7 linked regions of the Homo sapiens genome follow. The protein of the gene in region 4 interacts with the protein of the main gene of each other region in a pairwise test. Each region holds a gene or a part of one and is shown on either strand. Other genes may lie near its edges. The genes, in order: COL9A2, TBC1D25, BORA, FEZ1, PTH, DIS3L2 and ZNF251.

The links.
Region 1: the proteins of FEZ1 (region 4) and COL9A2 interact in a two-hybrid assay, tested with the Homo sapiens proteins (one large-scale study listed by BioGRID and IntAct).
Region 2: the proteins of FEZ1 (region 4) and TBC1D25 interact in a two-hybrid assay, tested with the Homo sapiens proteins (one study listed by BioGRID).
Region 3: the proteins of FEZ1 (region 4) and BORA interact in a two-hybrid assay, tested with the Homo sapiens proteins (one large-scale study listed by BioGRID and IntAct).
Region 5: the proteins of FEZ1 (region 4) and PTH interact in a two-hybrid assay, tested with the Homo sapiens proteins (one large-scale study listed by BioGRID and IntAct).
Region 6: the proteins of FEZ1 (region 4) and DIS3L2 interact in a two-hybrid assay, tested with the Homo sapiens proteins (one large-scale study listed by BioGRID and IntAct).
Region 7: the proteins of FEZ1 (region 4) and ZNF251 interact in a two-hybrid assay, tested with the Homo sapiens proteins (one study listed by BioGRID).

The regions. Positions count from the first base shown.
Region 1 is NC_000001.11:40,310,787-40,314,286, reverse strand, and holds part of COL9A2 (collagen alpha-2(IX) chain precursor), read left to right. Parts: intron 1-19; coding exon 20-82; intron 83-1,502; coding exon 1,503-1,556; intron 1,557-1,677; coding exon 1,678-1,713; intron 1,714-1,807; coding exon 1,808-1,831; intron 1,832-2,174; coding exon 2,175-2,228; intron 2,229-2,571; coding exon 2,572-2,625; intron 2,626-2,739; coding exon 2,740-2,787; coding exon of another isoform or gene 2,788-2,799; intron 2,800-3,000; coding exon 3,001-3,057; intron 3,058-3,140; coding exon 3,141-3,194; intron 3,195-3,500. UniProt on the Homo sapiens protein: Structural component of hyaline cartilage and vitreous of the eye.
Region 2 is NC_000023.11:48,542,714-48,546,213, reverse strand, and holds part of TBC1D25 (TBC1 domain family member 25), read right to left. Parts: intron 1,346-3,500; coding exon 1,191-1,345; intron 1-1,190. UniProt on the Homo sapiens protein: Acts as a GTPase-activating protein specific for RAB33B. Involved in the regulation of autophagosome maturation, the process in which autophagosomes fuse with endosomes and lysosomes.
Region 3 is NC_000013.11:72,751,923-72,754,309, reverse strand, and holds part of BORA (protein aurora borealis), read right to left. Parts: intron 2,142-2,387; exon of another isoform or gene 621-2,141; coding exon 489-620; exon of another isoform or gene 1-488. UniProt on the Homo sapiens protein: Required for the activation of AURKA at the onset of mitosis.
Region 4 is NC_000011.10:125,461,766-125,465,265, reverse strand, and holds part of FEZ1 (fasciculation and elongation protein zeta-1), read left to right. Parts: intron 1-1,695; coding exon 1,696-1,782; intron 1,783-3,500. UniProt on the Homo sapiens protein: May be involved in axonal outgrowth as component of the network of molecules that regulate cellular morphology and axon guidance machinery.
Region 5 is NC_000011.10:13,493,198-13,497,348, reverse strand, and holds the start of PTH (parathyroid hormone isoform 1 preproprotein), read left to right. Parts: upstream 1-1,351; 5' UTR 1,352-1,438; intron 1,439-4,151. UniProt on the Homo sapiens protein: Parathyroid hormone elevates calcium level by dissolving the salts in bone and preventing their renal excretion. Acts by binding to its receptor, PTH1R, activating G protein-coupled receptor signaling.
Region 6 is NC_000002.12:231,964,713-231,968,212, reverse strand, and holds part of DIS3L2 (DIS3-like exonuclease 2), read right to left. Parts: intron 1-3,500.
Region 7 is NC_000008.11:144,745,532-144,749,031, reverse strand, and holds part of ZNF251 (zinc finger protein 251), read left to right. Parts: intron 1-3,500. UniProt on the Homo sapiens protein: May be involved in transcriptional regulation.

The sequences.
Region 1 (3,500 bases), on a different chromosome or scaffold from region 4:
TTCCATCTCTGTTTTCAAGGGACCCAAGGGCGAGCCTGGCAAAGCTGGGCCAGATGGGCCAGACGGGAAGCCCGGGATTGATGTGAGTAGCTGAGTGTCGGGTGGGGCAGGGTAGGGCTCTGCCAATTGACCTCCAGGGCCTGGCTCTGGCATCTTCACTGATCTGTTCAGAGATGGGCAGCAGGATGGAGATTCTCCAGCTGTGAGCCCCCCTCACCTTGATATGACTTGTGACCTTCCTGGAACCTCACTCTCACCCAGGGTCATTGATTTGCAGGCAACCGGGGTCCAGAGAGAGGGTCTGCTTTCTGGGAGGTGCAGGTTCCTCCTGCTACCCCTCAGCAGTCAGGACTTAGTCTCACATTTCTGGCCTCCAAGGATCAGGCTGAATATGTTGGGTGGGGCTGTCCTTGTGTGCCCTGTCCTTTCCTCCGCTCTTCCCCTGACCCCTACCCACAGCCCCAGGCATGACTCAGGAGAGAAACATCATTTAGCTGATACCACAGAGCTCCCAGGGGGCCCCCAAGGTCACAGGCTCTTGAACACAGCCAGCCCCAGGGGCATGAGGACAACATCTGATGGGGGTTACACTGGGTCAGTCACTGAAAGATGGGAGAAAGGAGAAACCCCCATGACTTGCCTCTGCCCTGCTGGCTCATGAGGTGTGACCAGGGCTGGGACAGTCACCAGGACCCCTTCAAACTCATCCACACCCTGCAACGATTACAAGGCATATTGCCTTCTATGTTGCATCAGTTCTCACATCCACCCAGAGAGGCACCCAGATGAGAAACTAAGGCTCAGAAAAAGTTGCCAATGGCCTGGCGTGGTGGCTTATGCCTGTAATCCCAGCACTTTGGGAGGCCGAGGTGGGCAGATTACTTGAGGTCAGGAGCTCAAGACCAGCCTGGCCAACATGGCGAAACCCCATCTCTACTAAAAATACAAAAATTACCCAAGCGTGGTGGCGCATGCCCCTGGTCCTAGCTACTTGGGAGGCTGGGGCACAAGAATCATTTGAACCCAGGAAGCGGGGGTTGCAGTGAGCTGAGACTGTGCCACTGCACTCCAGCCTGAGCAACAGAGTGAGACTGTGTCTCAATTGAAAAAAAAAAGAAAGAAAAAGAAAAGAGAAAGGAAAGAAAAGAAAAGAAAATGAAAAAGTTGTCAAGGTAGGACATCAAGCAAATGACCAATCTTGACCCATGGCTAGGTCTTCTAGACTCCTGAACCCGGAGGCATGAAGCCTGGGTCTGGCATAAAGCCAAATCTTTGGGCTTTGGTTTCTCATCTTTCAAAAGAAGGGAATTGTTCTGCCTGCCTCCTAGGGTTACTATGGGAACTGGGGAAAAGGAAAGAAAGGTGTGGAGGTTCCTAGGCCTTCATGAGGTGTGGCAAAAAGGAGCCTCGGCCCACCCAGGAGGGACCCTTGAACCTGCCCTGCTCTGTGGGTCAGGGAGCAGGTTGGCCCTCATTGATCCTACATTTTCATTCTTCCCCAGGGTTTAACTGGAGCCAAGGGGGAGCCTGGCCCCATGGGGATCCCTGGAGTCAAGGTAAGGGGCCTGCTGGGGCCTCAGCGTGGGCAATCTAGGGCCAGCGTTTGGGAGTGGCTGTAGAGAGGAAGTAGGAGCCGGGGAAACCCCAGCCTCTGAGCCTTTCTCGTTGCTTCTGCAGGGCCAGCCCGGGCTTCCTGGTCCTCCTGGCCTTCCGGTGAGTACAACCTGCAAGGGCTTCGAGGGACTCTTGGGGGAGAGGGGACCTGCAGAGGGAGCCATGAAGCCAATTTTCTTTCTTTCTGTTCCAGGGCCCTGGTTTTGCTGGACCTCCTGTAAGTCCTCAGGGATGGGGCAGGATCCCCAGAACTCCCAGGGAAGGAGGGGACAACAGAAAGGCTTCGAGGGAATGGCCACCATGGGAAGGAGCCAGCTTGCTGTGATAGTGTCAGGAATAAGTGGACCTGCCAGAGACCCAGGGCCAGCCCACTCTGGGCCTGTCCACTGGCTCTGCAATTCTCTGGTCCTTAAAGCCTCAGTCTGTCAGTCTCTCTGGGGTTGGCAAAAAAAAAAAAAAAGTAAAAGTGGAGAAACGGGCTTTGGGTGCCTGTCTCTACCTTTGTGCCCAGGGTATCTGACCCTCTGAGGCATCCTGACCATCAACTCTCTGCTCCCCAGGGGCCTCCTGGACCTGTTGGCCTCCCTGGTGAGATTGGAATCCGAGGCCCCAAGGTGAGCCTCAGCCACCCTCTGTTCACTGCCTCCTGCCTTCTATCTCCAAGCTGGCAAGCTGGGTGGTCTTTCTGGAAGTTCCTGGGCCTGCTCCTGGCCACTGGGAAACTCCTCCAGGTCTGGGGCAGAAACCCCTCCTATGAGCCCACCCGGCACTAGGTCTTTTAGGGACGCCGCTGGCCCCATCCCCTGTCAATCAGGCCTTCATCTCCCAAGATGGTGGATCTCACAAAGTGACCGGGAAGACAGGGTGGAGAGGGCAGAGGCAGGACCTGGAGGAGGGCACTAGGGTAAGCTGGTAAGGGCTGGTCAGGGGTATGATTTGGGCTTCTTTTGCTTCCAGGGGGACCCTGGACCAGATGGACCATCGGGGCCCCCAGGACCCCCTGGGAAACCTGTAAGTGTCCCCAGACCCCCGACATGGCAAAGTGCAGGGGAAGGAGAAGGGTCTTTGAGCAAGCCTGCGGCGGGAAAGGGTCAGGCCAAGCTCCATCTTCATGTCTCCTCTCAGGGTCGCCCGGGAACCATCCAGGGTCTGGAAGGCAGTGCGGATTTCCTGGTGAGAGACGAGGTCTGGGGCGGGGCTAACACAGGGGGGCGGGGCCACAGAGATGGGGAGGCGGGGCCACGGAGATGGGGGTGTCTGGAGAGATGGGGAGGGGCTGCAGTGCAGGGGTTCCACCAGGTGAGGCGGAGGAGAGCACGGGGCTTGGAGAGATGGGGGCGCACTGCCCAGCTGATCACAGGACCCTGTGGGATTTTCTGTTTCCAGTGTCCAACCAACTGTCCACCCGGAATGAAAGGTCCCCCAGGGCTGCAGGGAGTGAAGGTGAGAGCTCCTGGCCTGAATCTTGGGAGGGTGGTGCAGGTGACAGGAGGGGACCTCGTATTGAGCTCTCTCCTTCCCTTCAGGGGCATGCGGGCAAACGCGGGATTCTGGGTGATCCTGGCCACCAGGGGAAGCCGGTGAGTGCAAGGGCTGAGGGCTGTGGGTCAGGGATACGTGGAGATGGTCCTACAGGGCTCTGTCCCCTTCTTCGTCCCTTCCCCTTCCCCTGTGGGTTCTGGGGACAGAGCCTTGAGCCGGGGGCTGGAGGCCTGTGCTCCAGGTCGGCATGTCTCTGGTCATGTCTCCTTGCTTGGCTTTTCTCTATCTGTAACACAGGACTGTAGGGTTCGTAGTAGTCCCTCCCGTCTGCTTGTGCTGGGGAAAAGAGGTGGTATCTTTGCTTGTCTGTATATGTGTCTTTCCATCTGCCTGCCTGTCTGACA
Region 2 (3,500 bases), on a different chromosome or scaffold from region 4:
TGAGATGAAGTCTCGCTCTGTCACCCAGGCTGGAGTGCAGTGGCAAGATCTTGGCTCACTGCAACCTCTGCTTTTCGGGTTCAAGCGATTCTCATGCCTCAGCCTCCCGAGTAGCTGGGATTATAGGCATGTGCCACTACACCCGGCTAATTTTTGTATTTTTTTTAGTAGAGACAGGGTTTCACCATGTTGGCCAGGATGGTCTCGAACTCCTGACTTCAGGTGATCCGCCTGCCTCAGCCTCCCAAAGTGCTGGGACTACAGGCATGAGCCACCGTGCCCAGCGGATTTGGGCTCTTATAAAGAGGTTGAGGGTGTGGGTTCACTCTCTTCTGCTCTTCTGTCATGTGAGGATGCAGCAAGAAAGCCCTCACTAGACACACAACCTGCCAGCACCTTGATCTTGGACTTCCCAGTCTCCAAAACTGTGAGAAATAAATTTCTCTTCTTTACAAATTCCTCAGTCTGTGGTATTCTGTTATAGTAGCACAAAACGACTAAGACACACACCCAGGAAATTTAATACTGATACAATTATCTAATGTATGGTCTGTAATCAAATTTTGAGACCACGTCCTAATTTATCTGTGTGCTCGCAGGGACCAGAATAGGCAAGAGTGGAAGAACAAAGATGAGAAGAGAAAAAGTGGCTGAGAGGTCAAGGGAACAAATGAATGAGTGAGCAAGAATACAAACAAATGAATATGGGTGCAGAATGACTGAATGAATAAACACAACTAGCATTATTATAATACGCATTGTTATATTTAGGTATTATAACTGAAATACATAATGCTAAAGCTATACCGTTATACTATATTATAAATCTGCATTATATCTAATTATTACATACATTACTCGGTTATATGTTATAATAGTATAATACAATATAATTATCATTATTAGAGATAACACTTTCTGAGCCTTCATTATGCAGTCATGCACTGTTCCAGGCATTTTATATGAATTTCCCCTCACAATGGTTCTAAGATACAAGGCCTCACAATGGTTCTAAGATACAATTATCTCTTTACAAGTGAAGAAATTGTGGCCTAGTGGCTGAGCCAGGATCTATAGCTAGGATACCTTGCTACCCATCCCACCATGAGGGAGTGTACTGTGAGGGGTAGCATCACCCTATGGGGTAAAGGGGTTCCAGAGCAGTGCTCCTGGGGGCACTGAGTACTCACTGTCCTCCGAGGGCCGAATATCTACACGCAATTGCAGGTAAGGTTTGGAGGCAGTGGCAAAGGCTGTGCTGAGGTCCCAGTCAGATAGAAGTGAGAGGTAAACTTCCTGTCCTAGCCGGTCCCGGCCCAGGTAGCTGATGCCAAAGTTCTTCTTCCTGGACAGGGGATACGAGGGAGCTCTCAGGGCCCCTGGTGCCCTGGAGGCCTCAGGGACAGTTTCCAAAACAAGGAGGGTAATATAGAAGGCGTTGAAAACAACTTCCTACTATGTGCAAGGTACTGTGCCAAGGATTATGGGCAGCCTGAGATCAGGTCATTTATACCCACTTTGTTACACAAACACATACAAGCAGGTACACACCTGCTTGTATCTGGAGGTCACATTGGAAACTGGTAAAATGTTGGCCGGGTGCAGTGGCTCACGCCTATAATCTCCGCACTTTGGGAGGCCGAGGTGGGTGGATCACCTGAGGTCAGGAGTTTGAGACTAGCCTGGTCAACATGGTGAAACCCCTTCTGTACTAAAAATACAAAAAAAATTAGCTGGGTGTGGTGGCAGGTGCCTGTAATCCCAGCTACTCAGGAGGCTGAGGCAGGAGAATCGCTTGAACCTGGGAGGTGGAGGTTGCAGTGAGCCAAGATTGTGGCATTGCACTCCAACCTGGGTGACAGAGCAAGACTCCATCTCAAAAAAAAAAAAAAAAGTTGGTCCCCTCTGGGGTAGATGTGGGACAGAAGTGGGAAGAAAGCAGCCTTCTTACTACATAAAAAAAAAGCAATCTGTGTTTGTTATTTTTCACAACAAAAATGTTTATGTAAGAAAGTCTAATAACAACTAAGAATTTTTCAGCTATACTTGTGCAACTATGTAAAGAAGTTTGTTGCGTGATGCTCATCATAACCATGGAAACATCCTAAATACCCAACAATTGTGTACTGTTTGAATTTCTTACCATGTGTATGTATTCCTCCAAAATCACAACAAAATGACTATCACATCTGCCCCCAAGAGACACCACTTTTCAGCTATCAGATTGGCAAATTTTGCAGTTTTACAGTAACCAATGTTTGCGAGGGTGTGAGGGAAACAGGCATTTATGTGCTGCTGATGAGATCATAAATTCGTTTTTTTTTTTTTTTGAGACGGAGTCTCACTCTGTCGCCCAGTCTGGAGTGCAATGGTGCGATCTCGGCTCGCTGCAAGCTCCGCCTCCCGGGCCCATGCCATTCTCCTGCCTCAGCCTCCCAAGTAGCTGGGACTACAGGCGCCCACCACCACGCCTGGAGAATTTTTTGTATTTTTAGTAGAGACGGAGTTTCACCGTGTTAGCCAGGATGGTCTTGATCTCCTGACCTCGTGATCCACCTGCCTCAGCCTCCCAAAGTGCTGGGATTACAGGCATGAGCCACAGCGCCCGGCTGAGATCATAAATTGATAAAACCTGTCTGGAGAGCATTTTGGAAACACCCATTAATAGTTCAAAAAGCAGGCCAGGTGCGGTGGCTCATGCCTGTAATCCCAGCACTTTGGGAGGCTGAGGCGGGTGGATCACGAGGTCAGGAGATCGAGACGATCCTGGCCAACACGGTGAAACCCCATCTCTACTAAAAATACAAAAATTAGCCGGGCATGGTGGCGCACGCCTGTAGTACCAGCTACTCAGGAGGCCGAGGCAGGAGAATTGCTTGAACTCAGGAGGTGGAGGTTGCAATGAGACGAGATCACACCACTGCACTCCAGCCTGGACGACAGAATGAGACTGTCTCAAAAAAAAAATTTTTTTTAAAGCAAATACCCTTTTACCTGGCAATACCACTGCTAGGAATTTATCCTATGACTAGATGTTTCCAAATACAGTAGTCCCTCTTTATCTACAGGGGATACATTCCAAGACCCCCCCGAGTGGATGCCTGAAACTGCAGATAGTACCAAGCCCTATATATACTATGTTTTTTTTCATATACATACATACCTATGATAAGGTTTAATTGATAAATTAGGCACAGTAAGAGATTAACAATAATAGAACAATTATGACAATACAGATGCTTCTTGACTTATGACAGGGTTATGTACCAATAAACTCATCGTAAGTTGGAAATACTGTAAGTTGACAATGCATTTGGCTGGGCGCAGTGGCTCACCTGTAATCCCAGCACTTTGAGAGGCTGAGGCGGGCGGATTGCTTGAGCTCAGGAGTTTGAGACTGCCCTGGGCAACATGGCGAAACCCTGTCTCTACTAAAGATACAAAAAATTGGCCGGGTGCGGAGGCTCACGTGCCTGTAATCCTAACACTTTGGGAGGCCG
Region 3 (2,387 bases), on a different chromosome or scaffold from region 4:
AAAAGAAACGGCATACAAGGCTGGGCATGTTGGCTCATGCCTGTAATCGCGCAGCACTTTGCGAGGCTGAGGCAGAAAGACTGCTTGACACCAGGAGTTTGAGACCAGCCTGGGCAACACAGCAGGCCCTGTCTCTACAAAAAAATAAAATGCAAAAAAAATTGGCACATAAAATTAAAGACTGTCCTGACTAGTGCCTGAAATTATGATGAGTTTCTTCAAGTATGAATATATAACCACCACCTGGAAGGTTCAGTAAATGCCCTCATCAAATACACGCTACCTTTGCACACTTTGTAGTATGTAAGATACTTGTGTATTCAGAGTAACCAAAATATTTAAAGGTTATTGGATGTTAAGAAAACAGGCTTACCTTTTAGTGTTTTAAATTTCATATAGTTTCTCAATAGTACTATTGTCTAATAATCAAAATTATTTTATATTTCTAATCTAAACAATATTAAGCTTTCACTATATTTTCTCCGTACCTTCATATTAAATGCTTGAGATTTACTCTCAACTTCACATGTTTGTGCATCACTTTCTTTGCAGTAACTTTCTGCCCCAACTGTATCCATAATATTGCTTCCACAATTCTGCGTATTATAGCCACTATCCATCTGACAGGAGAAAAAAGAAAAAAATATATTGTGAGGAACTTAAAAGTCAAATATTTAAATAAGTAAACCACTATAAACTCTCATTCACTACATCTGAATGATCCTAACATGTAATATTGATCATGTTGAACAAAATTCAAAAGTAATGCACAAATATAAAAGGTAGTCCTGCATAGTACTGATTATTGTAGTCATTTTACAATTCCTTCCAATGAAATATATCTTGTAACTTCCTTAAGAATCAGTGAACAGCCTACTGACACAATGCTTTCCTGTTATTTTGTGATCGTACCTAGTAGACAAAAATGAGTATTACAACTAACTTCACCTTCCAACGCATTTTCCAGGCTTGTCTCTAAATGGCTTGAGGCATGCTGCCTTTAAAAAAGTGGATTATATTATATTTACACCTAGTTGTTCACAATAATGCCACATATATAATGGCTCTAGATGTTAGTTCAGCTTTTCATGTTAATAAAAATTGTAGCATCCTAAGATACACTGTTTCAGTGCAAAAGAGCAAAAAAGAAAGATTCTAGCGAACTTCCAGCTTGGAAACATTTATTGAGTGTCTAAAAAGGCCAGGCACTATCTCTATATATTTAATATTTTTTTCTCCTTTCAACAACCCTAATACTTTACTAGAGAAGGAAATTAAGGCTTAAAAAGCTTAACTTTCACAATGTCATCCAGTGATGAGGTGATGAAGATGTGAGACCTAAGTCCAGGTTCTGTTCACTGCACAACGCTCCATTTACCTGTATAATGCTGAGCACCAAAGAAAGCAATCCACAAGGGAATCATTTTGCATTTAAGCCCTCCCTGCAAGTTAGGATCAGAGGGAAGGAAAAAGCTGACTGTCATTTTGTTTCCCTCACAAAGGTACAGACTAGCCTAGAAACGGCACTCTTTATCACTTAATAATCCTGAAAAAATGTTCCCAGATTTCAAGGCTGGATACATATCTGCTTACTACTAGAGGTCATGTTCCAATTAGAACAAAAGCCTTGTGATGTGTAACATTTTTGGGGAAAAGCCTTGTTCTGCTATCATTCAATAGCTACTTGATCAAAAATATAAATGTCAGATTGCTCCCAGAGATTCTGCCAATAGCTCTTCCTTCTAATATTCATCACTGCCAAATAGCTGGCTTATAATGCAATACTAATATGTAACTGGATATATATGGAGGGAAGAGTTACTCATTAGTACAGCAGGAAGTAAGGCATGCGGGGAGTTTGTCCCACACTATGGGAAGAGCAGGATTGATGAGAGCCAAGTTGAGATGGTGGCTGACTTCACTGTCTCTCATCTAGACTTCTGCTAATGTCAATGCCTAATATGTACCAACCAGGCAACAGATACCTTGTTATCCCCCACAGGCATCAAGGCAGGCATCAATCTCACTTTATAGCTAAGAAGGATGAGGGGACAAAAATTAAAAAGTCATGTTCTATTCACTGCTATGTAAATCTTGCCTTAAGATCCCACAGCCTGGAAATAAAAGAACTCTAATTCAAACTTGGTTCTAATTGCAAACTTTATATTCCAGTTGGGTCATGGTGCCTTTAAATGGTGTCTCTATGTCAGTCATTTAACATGCACTTTGTTACTAAATTTATTTTTCTACCACATAAATCAGATGTCATTGTCTTTTAAAACTTTCAATTGGCAACAGTTGTGCCCTGTGATAACATTCCTTGACATCTGGGCCCAGCACTTTAGCCCTTCCCTCATCATTCTCAGTCCCCCTTGTTTGTTACCATT
Region 4 (3,500 bases):
GAAAAGGTAAACATGCCATTTTTATATAGACTTAGTGCCCACCACCCCCTACCCCCTGCCAAATCCTGGTTATAGACTAACAGTTGCTGTTAGATGCTTATGAAAAATAACCCTGTTTCCCAGGATGAGCCTAACTTGGGCTCACACTAACTTGGGCTGGGTTCATATTGATACATTTCTTCCTTTTTCTCCCCTAATTTTTGTCTGGAGGAAAAAATGTATCTTCGTTCTCTTAATTTTGGGCTAACTTCTACTGCAGGATTTTCTGGCCTGAAGAAAGTTCTTCCATATGAGTGTAGTTGTGAACAAAGCGTAGCTCCAGGAGTTTTGTTCTGCATAGTGGGGAGCGGTGGAAACCACGAGGCTATCGCAGGTGGTGGACTTGGCAGAGAGAGGAGCATATGGGTTTGACAGCGGAAATAGATGTCACCATCTGGTACCCGGGCCCTTCAGATGATTCCATTACCTCCCTGTCCTACCCCATATCTAGGTTGAGTGCGGATGGCATTTGAGATATATTTGCTTAATTTTTTTTTTCTTTTTTAATGACATAGTCCTGGTTTTAAGCAAATGGAGATAAAAGGTGATGTGCTCTGTTAGGGATGTCTGCCAAGGCAAAGCTCACAGAAGACGGGAGAAGTTTCTGAGGATAGACTACCTCTGACATTATTGCTTGGATTGGAGCTGGGCTGTTTCCTGTTAGAAAAGGCAGAATACAAGCCCCAGGGAAGGGGCCAATCGGTGTGCCAGCTACTGGAGCGCAAGGAGGATTCATTCCTGGATGAGAGGTGACTCAGCAGAGAGATTTCCTAGAGACACCTCCTGCCTCCTCCTTGTATGACGTTCAAATCAGACTTCTAGACATACAGCTTGTTAGGTGTTTAGTGATTAACTTTTCTGTGGGACTTGAATGTAAATGCCAGACTATGGCAGTTTGGGATATGGTCAGTTAAGCCAGATATGCTTTGAATAGCTTGTTAGATTTAAACATCTAGAATTTTGATGGCTGTGAACTTTGAGGATCTTACTTGGGATTATGGAATTATAGAGACACAGGGCAAATGAGATAAATGGGGTTCTCTTTTGTAGTTTTGTTGTTGTTTAGTTCATGTGGTCAGGTTATTCAGTGGCATGTCCCATGCAGATTTCTTACATCTGCCATCAGCTATGACATCATGCCTGGATTCCAGTAACAGGATGGCATTTCATCAAATTCTGAAAGTCATCATTATTTGGACTAGAACAACCTATTCCTTAAAATGCCTAGTAAGACGAAATCTGGAAACAACCCCCCAGGTTGGAACTCCTTAACAAAATCAGGGCACCTTTGCTGCAGTTGGCTGCAGTGTCACTTACCTGGAGAAGGCGCCTTGTTCACCCCAGGATGACCTGTCTGTGGGTTAAAAAACGGTGCTGTCCCCTTTGAGTCAGAATGGTGCTGGCCATTCCCCTGTCGTCTTTTCCTGCCAAGTTGGATTCAGTGCTGCATGCTGGATTTCTGGCATGCTGGAGTTAGTGATGGGGCAAAGATATGTTTGGAATTGGATGAAACTCTGGACACCTCTTCAGCTCCACTGTTTAGACAGCAGCTGGCTGGAGTGGCCTCCCAGTCAGTATCATCCATTCTCGAGACTAGAGGCAATCCCACTTCTGCTGATGGTCACCCAGAATTCCATCTCCCCACCTCCTCTCCAGATCCATGAGAAAGAAGAGGAAGAGTTCAATGAGAAGAGTGAAAATGATTCCGGTATCAACGAGGAGCCTCTGCTCACAGCAGATCAGGTATAAGTATCTCTCCAGGTTATCGGGACCTTTTGTTCTTTTGATGGAGAAAAAGTCCAAGAGAACACACTTGCCACATCCATTTAAGGCAGAAGAAAGATATGTGGTCATGTGGTGCCTGTGCTCATGACTCAGAGTATTTTTTGTTTCTTTTTTTTCTTTATATATATATACTTTTGAGACAGAGTCTTGCTCTGTTGCCCAGGCTGGAGTGCAGTGGCGTGATCTTGGCTCATTGCAACCTCTGCCTCCCGGATTCAAGTGACTTTCCTGCCTCAGCCTCCCGAGTAGCTGGGACTACAGGCATGCACCACCATGCCTGGCTAATTCTTATAAAAAATTTTTTGGTAGAGATGTGATTTCACCATGTTGGCCAGGCTGGTCTCAAACTCCTAACCTCAAGTGATCTGCCCACCTCAACCTCCCAAAGTGCTGGGATTATAGGCATGAGCCACTGTGCCTGACCTTTTTTTTTTTTCATTTTGAGACAGGGTCTCACTTTGTCACCCAGGCCAGAGTGCAGTGGCAAAATCAGGGTTCACTATAGCCTCAACCTCCTTGGCTCAAGCGATCCTCCCGCCTCAGGCCCCTAAGTAGCTGGGACTACAGGCATGCATCACTATGCCCAGCTAATTTTCTGTACTTTTAGTGGAGATGAGGTTTCACCATGCTGCCCAGGCTGGTCTCAAACTCCTGGACTCAAGCAGTCCACCCGCCTTGGCCTCCCAAAGTGCTGGGATTACAGGCATGAGCCACGGTGACTGTCCAACTCAGAGTATTTTTGATAAGGGATTTCATCTCTCTTTCTGCCTCAGGTTGCCCACCTGCAGTGAACATGAATGTCATTCTTGACACTTGGGATAGTTGGGGTCAGTCTCTGATAGGAGCCAGAGACAGGCATAGTGTTTAGTAGCTACAATCCTGCTAAGCCTTCTTATTGAAATTCGTTGTACTCGGAGTCAAGACACTCAAACAAGGGTCCCAAATACCTGTTTTCCCAAAAAGAGAAGTGACAGATGAGGCTTTTGTGTGATGGATATTTTCTTACATTTCATAGAACACTCAAAATTTTGGGCCTTCCGAAAGGAGTCTTAGAGCCACTTCGACTTTGTGAAAAAAGATAGAGTGCTTCGCATTCAATTGAGATCATCATAGCTTTAATAATTTATTACTTAGAGAGGATAATGTTCAGTTTCTGGATTCCTTATTTAATGTTTTAGTCAACAAATATTTATGGGTGCTTATTTTGAGCTAAACACTACATAAGTTTCCACAAAGTCTTTCTGCAAAGCTCCACTGGCAGCCTTCGGTGCCAGAAAGTGCTTTTTTAGCAGCAATGGTGCTTTTTCATATCTGTGATAGAAAGGTGGGAATTGAAACACGTGAGGATTAGGAGACTGAAGAGAACCAGATTTTTAAAAATAGGGGCTAATAGCTATTCTTGTGACTTGTAGGAGGATCTACAATTCAATGATATGAACTCAATTATAACTCCTCTTAGAGAAAAGGACATTCAGCCATAAGACCCTGACAGGGACTTGTGTCATTTGGTTGCATTCTGTAAAATGGCTTTCAGTAGTCAAAGACTGGGTATTTCCTAAGTTTGTGAGTAGAGGTGAAAAGGTTTGGGAATAAGAATGGAAATTATTCTAAAGGAGGAGACCCTGAAACCCCTTACCTTTGGTCCAGCCCACTGTGAAGAAACCACCTCAAAGAGT
Region 5 (4,151 bases), about 110 Mb from region 4:
CCTGGAGCAACACTCTAAGTGAGGTTAACCCAGAGTGGAGAATCTCCTAGGACAGGACTAGTATATATCTCTCATTATAAACTCCATACGGTTACTATTCAAATTTGTACTGGCTCTTACCTAAGGTAGAGTCAAACCTTGACAATGGCTAGTAGGAAAAAGGATGACATGAAGCCAGGATGGGACCAGAGCTGAGAGAACTGATCCCACTCTGGCACCGGATCTTTGGTGGGAAGGCAAAGCTGTCTAAAGGAGTCCTAGATATATCAAAGACATTCAGGGTGTTTTGACAGGTGGACCAGGAAAATATTGCTGGAGGAATATTTGAAGTCAGACATGTGGCAGCATCATGCCTCCAATAGGTTTTGGAGCAGGCTCTCATCATCCCTTAGGGAACATGAGAATAAAGACCTAACCCCTAGGGGAAAATGTTGCAAAGAGCTTTTGCTGTGTTTTCAGATGACTTTGCAAATTAAAGTCAAGAAGACTGGAGTTCAAAGAAGGGCTGTATTTCTAGGCAGAAACTGAGGTAGTAAGAATCTGGTGTCATAAAGACCTTTGTTGAATTCCATCTTTTCTGCTTTCCAAGCCTAAGTTTCCTCATGTAAAAATGGGGATAAGCACTTAACTTTAGTACTTTAAGTACTAACTTTAAAGGACTGCTGTGAAGATCTAGTGGGATAATATATGTAGTTAGGCATGCAGTTAGTGCTTATCAAATGTTATTATTATAGATTAAGATGCACAAATAAAATATAAGTTAAATAAATTTTAAAATAATTTCACTTTTGAAGCTTTTAAAGTAATTATGTACTAAGAGCATTTTCTCAAATTATTCTTAACACTTCCTTTAAGAAAAGGGCTATATCTGTTTTTTGAAAGATGACCAGAAGTGACATGGATTGGTTGAAAATGGCTTGTAAAGTAAGCCTAACATTTATGATTTATTACCATAAAAACTGTACCAACAGTACGGTTATAACAAATACACTTATTTTTGGGTTTTATTTTCAAGTAAGATAATGACTTTATCATAAACCTTTGAAATCAGTCTTTTTACAGTATAAATTCAGATTCATTAATCCACATAGAATTTTTCTCGATGGTATAATTCTGTATTTGTTAAAAGTCTTTGCATAAGCCCCTTGTCAAGCCAAATGCTGTTTTCCTTTTAGTATCCAATTATCTGAAACTTAAGAAGAGTGTGCACCGCCCAATGGGTGTGTGTATGTGCTGCTTTGAACCTATAGTTGAGATCCAGAGAATTGGGAGTGACATCATCTGTAACAATAAAAGAGCCTCTCTTGGTAAGCAGAAGACCTATATATAAAAGTCACCATTTAAGGGGTCTGCAGTCCAATTCATCAGTTGTCTTTAGTTTACTCAGCATCAGCTACTAACATACCTGAACGAAGATCTTGTTCTAAGACATTGTATGGTAAGTAAACTTAAAAATTCACTTCTGAATCTCATGAGATTTTGATAATCAAGTTATTATTTAATGTGTACCATTTCTACAAATACCATGTTGTTTCTTCAAGGTAAAATGCTAAGAAGTTTGAGTTATGTTTAATATAAAATGCCACATACAAAATAAATTAATGCTACTCAAATCACAAAATCCTTTTTGATTAAAGTCTTCTGAGATACCTTGCCTTTTAAAACCTCATCTGAAATTACAACAAAAAATCATTAAAATTTGGCATGCTATGCTTTAATATAATAGTATCGGTGTCAAAATTTTGAAATAAAACAGGTTGATGGTGAATGAATAGTTCTGATTTAAATAATCTTTATAAATTTATTAAGTGGAGTTAATATTCTGTTTTTCCTGCAGAGTATTCTTATCTAGATTATTTATTTTATGGCTCATAAAGAGCCCAATCTGTATACTAAAGTTGGATAAGCCCAGTTTGACTAGTAAATATTTATTTCCTTTACATAAATGACAGCTGTATTCTGAAAACAGTATTTCCTATGCTATTTCTAAATGATGCAGTTTCCCTGTAAAATAGGAGTACATAACTACTCTATGTGTATGTTAAAAGGTAGTACACTGAGCATTAAGGAAAAGCACTTCTATAATAACAGCCTTTGCAAGTACTGAAATGCAGATTAAGGCAAGAATATCCTATACTGATGTGAAACGAGGAAAGAGACAAAAGTTATATTAAAAGATAATTGTTAATAAAATAAGTTGAAGAAATAAGCTACAAACAAGCATTCCATTCAGAGATAAAGCTCGAAATCCATATCACAAGTAATTAATCAGATGATTTTTAAATGCTTTGACACATTATTTTTAATGCTAGGAGAAATGTGAATTAATTTAGTGAAAATCTCTAGATTAGCACCTATTAGTTTGGTATTTATGGTTATTACAATGCCTGAAATGAAGGTTACTTAAGAAAAGGATTTGCTACGTAAATAGTGTTAACAATTTACACTATGAAGAAAATTAGGCATTTTCAAGCAAGTTATAAACATTTAGGTATAATCAACATAAAATGCAGTGCGGGGGGATTTCTCAAAAATAGGCTCTTTCATTCCTCTTGTAGCTTAAGATTTCTGCAGTGTGACAGAAGGGAGCATGAGAAGCATGGCTCACCAGCCAGCCTCTATTGTCTATGTAATTAGAAGCTTCAGAACTCACTAATACCACTGTACCTTTCACTGGCGCATTACCCCATAAAACTTGAGATGAGGTGAGATCTGAGTATAAAGATAGGTCAGAAGTATTTTAAAGGGCTTAATTTGCCAAAAAGAAAAGTAAAAAGCTAGAGACCCTTTTTGCAGAACATTTGGTGACCACACATTTGAGGGAAGATGTGGCATTAGATGAAGCAGAAGCAAACCCTGCTCTTAGGGGCTCATCTAGGTGAGTGCACAGCCTGTGACACTACAGGGAGAGGCTCAGTAAACTGAGATCCAGCATTCTGTATGACAGAGGCATTGCTTATCACAGAGGTTCTGAATTTTAAGTAGGAAGTACATAATGAAGAGGGCTTTAAAAATTGCTAAGAAAGCGAGTCACCAGGGCTGGCAGTAGTGTAACAGGGCCATCCTGAGCTGTTAGGAGAGTAGATGCAGGGAGGGCTGGTGACCTCCGTGGGTTTATCTGTTGGAGACTCTTCTCTCCAAATCCCAGGCCTGGCTTCCAGCACCATCCAGCTGTGCCCAAGAAGCCACGCTGGTCTGTTCTCCAAGTCTTTTAAATGGTGCCTAATTTTTCTAAGTGAGCTTAGCAATGAGAAGAAAAAAAAAACATGAATTATTTTTCTGGAAAATCAAGGAGACATGGGTAACAACAGGCACTAATAAATATTTATAGATGAGTGAATGAGGAAATAATTACATAAAAAAGGTCAGTGACAATTGATAAATGACAAGGAAATATTTAATTAGGTAAAAGTAAACCATTGCTCTCTATACTAGGATAGACTTTATCTACTTCGTCTTTTCCTAAGTCAGCATGTTAATTCTGGGGGAGGATCATAAGAAAGGAAATACTTTTTTAAAAAAAATTTAAAAACATGTAACAAAGCAAGGGTAAAATATATGTATATACATAAGTGGTATGACTGTAAAACTGTACTTTCCATTAGTTATTAGCTGAGTTAAGAGAATGATCACGTTGAAGTACTGTGTGGACTAGAAATGTACTCTGTCATCATGCAATGAAATGTTGCTAACATTTTAACATAGCTCATTTATGCAGAATGAATTCTGGCAGTTTACCCCAAGTCACAGTTAGGACGGTAGATGGTGAGATCGCAGATGCGTGATTATCTAGATTCAGTGTTACATTTTTGATGTTTATCACTCAGTGGATTTTTATTAATATGCTGATTAAGTTATTTACTTGGCCAGTCATTGTGCTAAATAGTTGCTCTTTTGTGTTTCATTGCCTTGATGTTTGAGTGTAATCTAGCATTTTAATACAGTGTTTATTTTGCATGATCTTTAACAAATGTTTTAAGCAATTTTAAAAAGGCAGGATGTTATTGACATTATACATTGAAGTCTTAACATTTTAATATTTATAGTGCTTATTAGTTTGCAAAATTGTATAATTAGGAATTATTTCAGAGACAATGTTTTCTTTTTCAGGTGAGTAGTTGCCGCTTAATATCATTGGAGTACATTCTTTA
Region 6 (3,500 bases), on a different chromosome or scaffold from region 4:
GGCAGGAGAATGGTATGAACCTGGGAGGCGAAGCTTGCAGTGAGCCAAGATCATGCCACTGCACTCCAGCCTGGGTGACAGAGCAAGACTCTGTCTCAAAAAAAAAAAAAAAAAATCAGTTATCTGGGATAGGGATCAGGGAGCCAGGGGTATGAAAACAGCTTTGGGCATAATAGATATGATCAATGTCCTGTTTGTGATGATAGTCTTACAAGTACACACATATGTCAAAACTTAACAAACTGTACACTTTAGAGTTTATAACCTGTCAACTATACCTCAATAAATCAGTCTTAAATCAATCAAATAAATTTTTTAAATAAATCAAAAAAATATGGTCTTAACCAATAATAATCCTACACAACACAAATTGGGCCCTAATTCATTTATTAAAAATTGTTTTTTGTTAATAAGACATATTTCAGTCATAAAACTTATAAGGCATCCTTACTTGCAAACTATTATAAAAGACTGATTTGAACTGGCAAAAATTCAGTGAAACATAAAGAAAATAAATGCATTATTTCAACAAAAAAATCTCAGAACAATTCTTTTTTTCATTTACAAAACTTAACTAAAATTAAAAAGAAACATGTAAATTTCTGACCTTGTTTAATACTGTGCCATAAGTAAAAGGATTAAACAAAAATAATAATAGCTCCTTCTTGGTATAACTGTTGCTAGAGTTTTGCATTCAACCTTTTAAAAGTGATTAAAGCTAACAGTGGCAGACATCAGAGAAAAAGGCAACTATTTCCCATGTGGAAAGCTGGTCCCTAAAAAAATGAAGTTAAACAGAAATGTTTGGGGCTTCTCTCTGAATCCCTCAGCATCTAGATAATCACCACAAACTTCTCCTCACCAAAGCCTAATGGGAAATAGAAACAATCCAATTTCATTAGAGGAGGACCAAAAAGGAACTTATAATGCAGAATTCTTCAATTAGCATTATATAACTTCCTGCCTCATCCGGTTTGGGTCACACAACCTCTCCGTGTCTACCAGACACTCCACCAATACTTTACTGAGGGCAGGGTACTTCATCAGCCCTTCTCCCCTCATGATTTCATCAGAGATAATTTCAAGGTACTTTGCACCACATGAAGTCCCTTCCTACCAGTGTGACCAGTGTCTCATCTGTCATCATTAGTACATCCCAGAGGCAGCCTGTTATTAGGGCAAGAAAGAAATCAAAAGTAGGTGGACTAACAGTTGACTAAACTTCATCAAGTCTTGCCTCAACATAACTGGTCACGTAATAACTACTCTAAGGCATCAAGTTCTTGCTATGGTTCCAAATAAAATACCTTCTATACGAAAAACCCTTCAAATCCTTCTACTTCATGTTACATGACAAAAAGGAGCATCTTCTGCCATTCTACCACCACTCTCAGTTTAATAAAGACAACAAGATTTCTGGGATGGGCACAGTGATTCATGCCTGTAACTCCAATATTTGAGAGGCTGAGGCAGGAGGATCACTTGAGGCCAAGAGTTTCAGACAAGCCTGAGCAACATAGCAAGACCCTGTCTCCACAAAAAAAAAAAAAAAAAAAAAAAAAAAAAAAAAATGTTTTTTAACTAGCTGGGCATGGTGGCTCATGCCTGTAGACCCAGCTACTCAAGAGGCTCAGGTGGGAAGATCACTCGAGCCTGGGAGTTCAAGGTTACAGTGAGCTATGATCACACTACTGCACTCCAGCCTGGGCAGCAGAGTGAGATTCTGTCTCAAAAAGGCCAGGCACAGTGGCTCAGTGGCTCACGTCTGTAATCCCAGCACTTTGGGAGGGCAAGGCGGGTGGATTGCTTGAGGTCAGGAGTTTGAGACCAGCCTGGCCAACATGGTGAAACCCCGTCTCTACTTAAAATACAAAAAATTAGCCAGGCGTGGTGGCGTGAGCTTGTAGTCCCAGCTACTCACGAGGCTGAGGCTGGAGAATCACTTCAGCCCACAAGGCGGAGGTTGCAGTAAGCTGAGATCGTGCCACTGCACTCCAGCCTGGGCAACAGAGTAAGTCTCTGTCTCAAAAAAAAAAAAAAAGAAGAAGAAGAAGAATTCTGGTCAAGTCTCCACTCCCTGACATCAGCAAAAATGGTATCGATGGCCAGACCTCAGAGGGATCTATCCACTCATTCCAGGCCCAGTTTTACTTTTACTCATGCTCAATAGCATTTCATGAAACTCCTTCTGTAAAACAAAAACTTTTTGAAGGATAAAATAAAAGGACAGGCTGGGCATGGTGGCTTACATCTATAATCCCAGAACTTCGGGAGGTTGAAGCAGGAGGATCGCCTGAGCCCAGAAGGTCGAGGCCACAGTAAGCCGTGATCTCACCACTGCACTCCAGCCAGGGCAACATGGACGTGGCATCAGAGGGTCTGCTTTGATTAGAGCACTGTTCTCTTCCTGTGCATCTTGTAGACATCAGTTAAAATGTCATTTCAGTGATTTCTCTAAAACACTTGTCACAGCCATAGTTTTGCATTTGTGTGATTATTTGAGTATCATCTGCTGAGGACAGAGATCATATGTGCATTCACTCTCCCCCATCTCCAAGGCCAAGCATAGTGCCTGGTACCAAGTAAGCACTCAAATATTATATTTGATGATTAAGTGAATAAATGAACACTAAGTCTATAAGAAAGCAACAAAACATCTTTTAAGAGGACTTAAAAGTTTGATCATCTTCACAAATGTATCTTTGGTGGATGCCCAAAGCAACTGAGTCCCCTTATTAAACATTAAACTCAAAAAAAAAAAAAAAGTCAATTCAGATGTCTACATAAATTGCTCTGGCCTTCAATGTCTCAAGGCAAATGCTGAGCATCAAAGGCTGATAGGCTAAACACACACACTCTCCTTATGTAAAGCATACCTACTGGTTGCTAAGTAACAGTTGTTTTTGGTAATTCCTGATACTACCGCTGCTACATAGGAAGCACTTCAGAAATACCAGTCAAATAAAAAAGAGCAACATTTCACAAGACTCTTGAGCATGAATGAAACAGTAACTACTTAAACTGTGGTGTTTCATATAAACCTAACACCAAATGCAGAAGCAAAGAAACTCTAAGTGGCAAAGCCCTCAGCTAGTAACTTCACTATTTTAGATGTCAAACAGGAAAAATGTCATATAGATTTGTACTAAGACTATTTGAAAGAAATAGGTCACAAATCAAGTGACCTGAAAGCATTAAATAAGAACTTCGAAATGCCACATGGAACTATTTCCCAAACTCTTAAGAATATAAGGAAAGGAATTAGGACTTCCTGTCCTCTCCAATACAAATACAAATTATATCTGTACTTTAGAGACAAATCAAGTCCCATTTAATCCAGAAATGATTTCTCCACCCTCTGACCTACTACAGCACTTAATATCCGTACCACATATTTTGCATTTAAACAAATGTCCATTTCATTGCTTTCCTAATAATTTCATGTGTGCACTTTTCTTTTATATCCTTTAAAGTGTATAATGCTGTAGATGCTTAATAAA
Region 7 (3,500 bases), on a different chromosome or scaffold from region 4:
CACCACATCCAGCTCTTTTTTTATTTTTGTAGAGATCAGGTCTCACTATTTTGCCCAGGTTGGTCTCAAACTCTTGAGCCTCAAGCAGTCCTCCTGCTTTGGCCTCCTAAAGCACTGGTATTACAGGCCACAGTGCCTGGCCCCAACTGTGTTTTCTATAAGGAACCTGCTTCGGCCAGGAGTGATGGCTCCTGTAATTCCAGCACTTTGGGAGGCCGAGGTGGGAGGATCCCTTGAGCCTGGGAGTTTGAGACCAGCCTAAACAACATAGTGAGAAATCATCTCATCAAAAAGTTAAAAAAATTAGCTTGGTGTGGTGTTGTGTACCTATAAGTCTCAGCTACTCAAGAGGCTGATGTGGTAGGATCGCTTGAGCCCAGGAAGTTGAGGTTGTAGTGAGCTGTGATTGCACCACTGCTCTGCAGCCTGGGCAACAGAGCAAGACCCCATTGCAAAGAAAAAAGAAACCTGCTGTCTCATGACAAGATCTTGCCATGAACAAAAAAAAAGAAAAGAAGCCCACTTTAAACATAAAAACACAAAAGGGATGGAGAAAGATAGTAATCCAAAGAAAGCGGAAATATCTTACTACTTTAGACACAAAACATAACAGATCTTGAGGTGTATGGGCCTAACAACAGCATCAAAATATGTGAGGTTGGCCAGGCACAGTGGCTAACACCTGTAATCCCAGCACTGGGAGGCCGAGGCGGGCAGATAACTTGAGGTCAGGAGTTCAAGACTAGCCTGGCCAACATGATGAAACCCCATCTCTACTAAAAACACAAAAATTAGCCAGGCATGGTGGAGTGCACCTGTAATCCCCCCTACTCAAGAGACTAAGACAGGAGAATCACTTGAACCTGGGAGATGGAGGTTGCAGTGAGCCAAGATTGCACCATTGCACTGCAGCCTGGGCGACAGAGTGAGACTCCATCTCAAAAAAAAAAAGTGAGGTTGTCAAGTGTGGTAGTCATGCCTGTAATCCCAGCACTCTGGAAGGCCAGGAAGGGCAGATCGCTTGAGCCCAGGACATTGAAGCTGCGGTGAGCTATGATCACGTCACTGCGCTCCAGGCTGGGCAACTGAGTGAGACACTATCTCTAAAAACCACAAAACCAGCTGGACACGGTGGCTCACGCCTGTAATCCCAGCACTTTGGGAGGCCGAGGCGGGTGGATCACCTGAGGTCAGGAGTTCGAGACCAGCCTGACCAACATGGAGAAACCCCATCTCTACTAAAAATACAAAATTAGCCGGGCGTGGTGGCTCATGCCTGTAATCTCAGCTACTCGGGAGGCTGAGGCAGGAGAATTGCTTGAACCCAGGAGGCAGAGGTTGCAGTCAGCCGAGATTCGCGCCATCGCACTCCAGCCTGGGCAACAGAGCGAGACTCCGTCTCAAAAAACAACAACAACAAAATATGTGATGCGAAAACTGATAGAACTACAAGGGGAAATAGATGAGTTCACTGTCTGCAGTTGGAGATCCAGCACCCTCTATCGTAAATGGACAGATCCAGCAGGATGCAGTTGAGTTTAACAGCACCATCACATCAGTCAGCTGGGAATAATTTACATCTGTAGACTGCTTCATCCAACGATAGCAGAATGCACATTCCTGCCAAGCTCATGTGGAACATTCACTAAGATAGACCACATTCTGGGCCACAAAACACTTTAACATACTTGAAGAATAGAAAACATAGAATGTCTATTCTCAGACCACAATGACATGAAACTAGAAATGAAACCAGAAAGATAGCTAGAAAATCCTAAAGTACTTGGCAAATAACACACTTCCAAATAACACGAGTCAAAGAAGATATCTCAAGATAAATTTTAGAATATTTTGAATTAAGTGAAAATGAAAATAAAACTTACCAAAATTTGTGGAATGCTGTGAATGCAGTGCTTAGAGGGAAATTTATAGCATTGACTGCATGTATTAGAAAATGGGAAAGATCTAAAATCATAATGTAAGCTTTCACTCTAGGAAACTAGAAAAAGAAGAGCAAATTAAATACAAAGTAAGCAGAAGAAAAGAAATAAAAATTCAAGCAGAAATCAATGAAATGGAAAACAGGAAATCAATAGAGAAAATCAACGAAACCAGAAGATGGTTTGAAAAAACAATAAAATCAGTAAACCTTTAGCCAGACTAAGACAAAGAAGAGAGAGGACACAAAATACTAATATCAAATGAAAGAGGGAACATCACTACAGAGATGTCCCACAGACTTTTAAAGGGTAATAAAAAAAAAAAGATGAACAACTCTGTGCCCAAATTTGATAAATGAACCAATTCCTTGAAGTACACAATCTCCCAAACACGGGAAGAAATAGACAATCTGAATAGGGCTATGTCTGTTAAATAAGTCAAATCAACAATTACCTTCCAAAATAGAATCCACTGGGCTCAGATGGGTTCACTTATGACTTCTACCAAACATTTAAGGAAGAAATTATACCAGTTCTCTATAATCTCTTCCAGAAAATAAAAACAGAGGGAATACTTCCTAACTCATATGAGGTCAGTGTTATCCACCCAAATGCCAAAACCAAACAGACATTACAAGAAAAGGAAACTACAGACAGACACCTCTTATGAACATAAATGCAAAAATCCCAACAAAATATTAGCAAATCAAATCCAACAATGTATAAAAAGAATTATATACCATGACCAAGTGGGATTTGTCCCAGGTTTACAAGGCTGGTCCAACATTAGGAAATAAATTAATGTAATGTGATGTACCACATCAACAGGCTGAAGAAAGATCATGTGGTCATATCAGTAGATGCGGAGAAAGCATTTGACAAAATCCAACCTCGATTCATGATTACAAATTCAACAAACTAGGAATAGAGAGGAACTTCCTCAAGTTGATAGAGAGCATCTACAGAAAATCTACATTTTCCTTTATACTGGCAACGAAGAAGTGGAATTTGAAGTTAAAAACACATTATTTACATTAGCACCACTAAAGATAAAATACTGAGGTGTAAGTCTAACAAAATATGTACAAAATCTGTGAGGAAAAATACAAGACTGATAAAAATATATCAAAGAAGAGCTAAATAAATGAAGAGATAGTCTGTTCATGAGGAAAACTCAGTATTATCATGATGTCAGTCCTCTGCTTGATTTACAGATTCAACACAATCTCAATCACAGTCTCAGGGGCTAAGTGTGGTGGTTTATGCCTATAATCCAGCACTTTGGGAGGCTAAGGCAGGAGGATCGCTTAAGCCCAGGAGTTTAAGACCAGCCTAGGCAACATAGTGAGACCCCATATCTACAAAAAAATTTTTTTTGTTAGCTAGGCCTGGTGGCATGTGCCTATATTCCCAGCTATTTGGGAGGCTGAGGTGGGAGGACTGCTTGAGCCTAGGAGTCTGAGGTTTCAGTAAGTTATGATCATGCCACTGTATTCCAGCCTGGCTGACAGAGCAAGACCCTGTCTCTAAAAAACGAAAAAAACTCAGCAGGTTATTCTG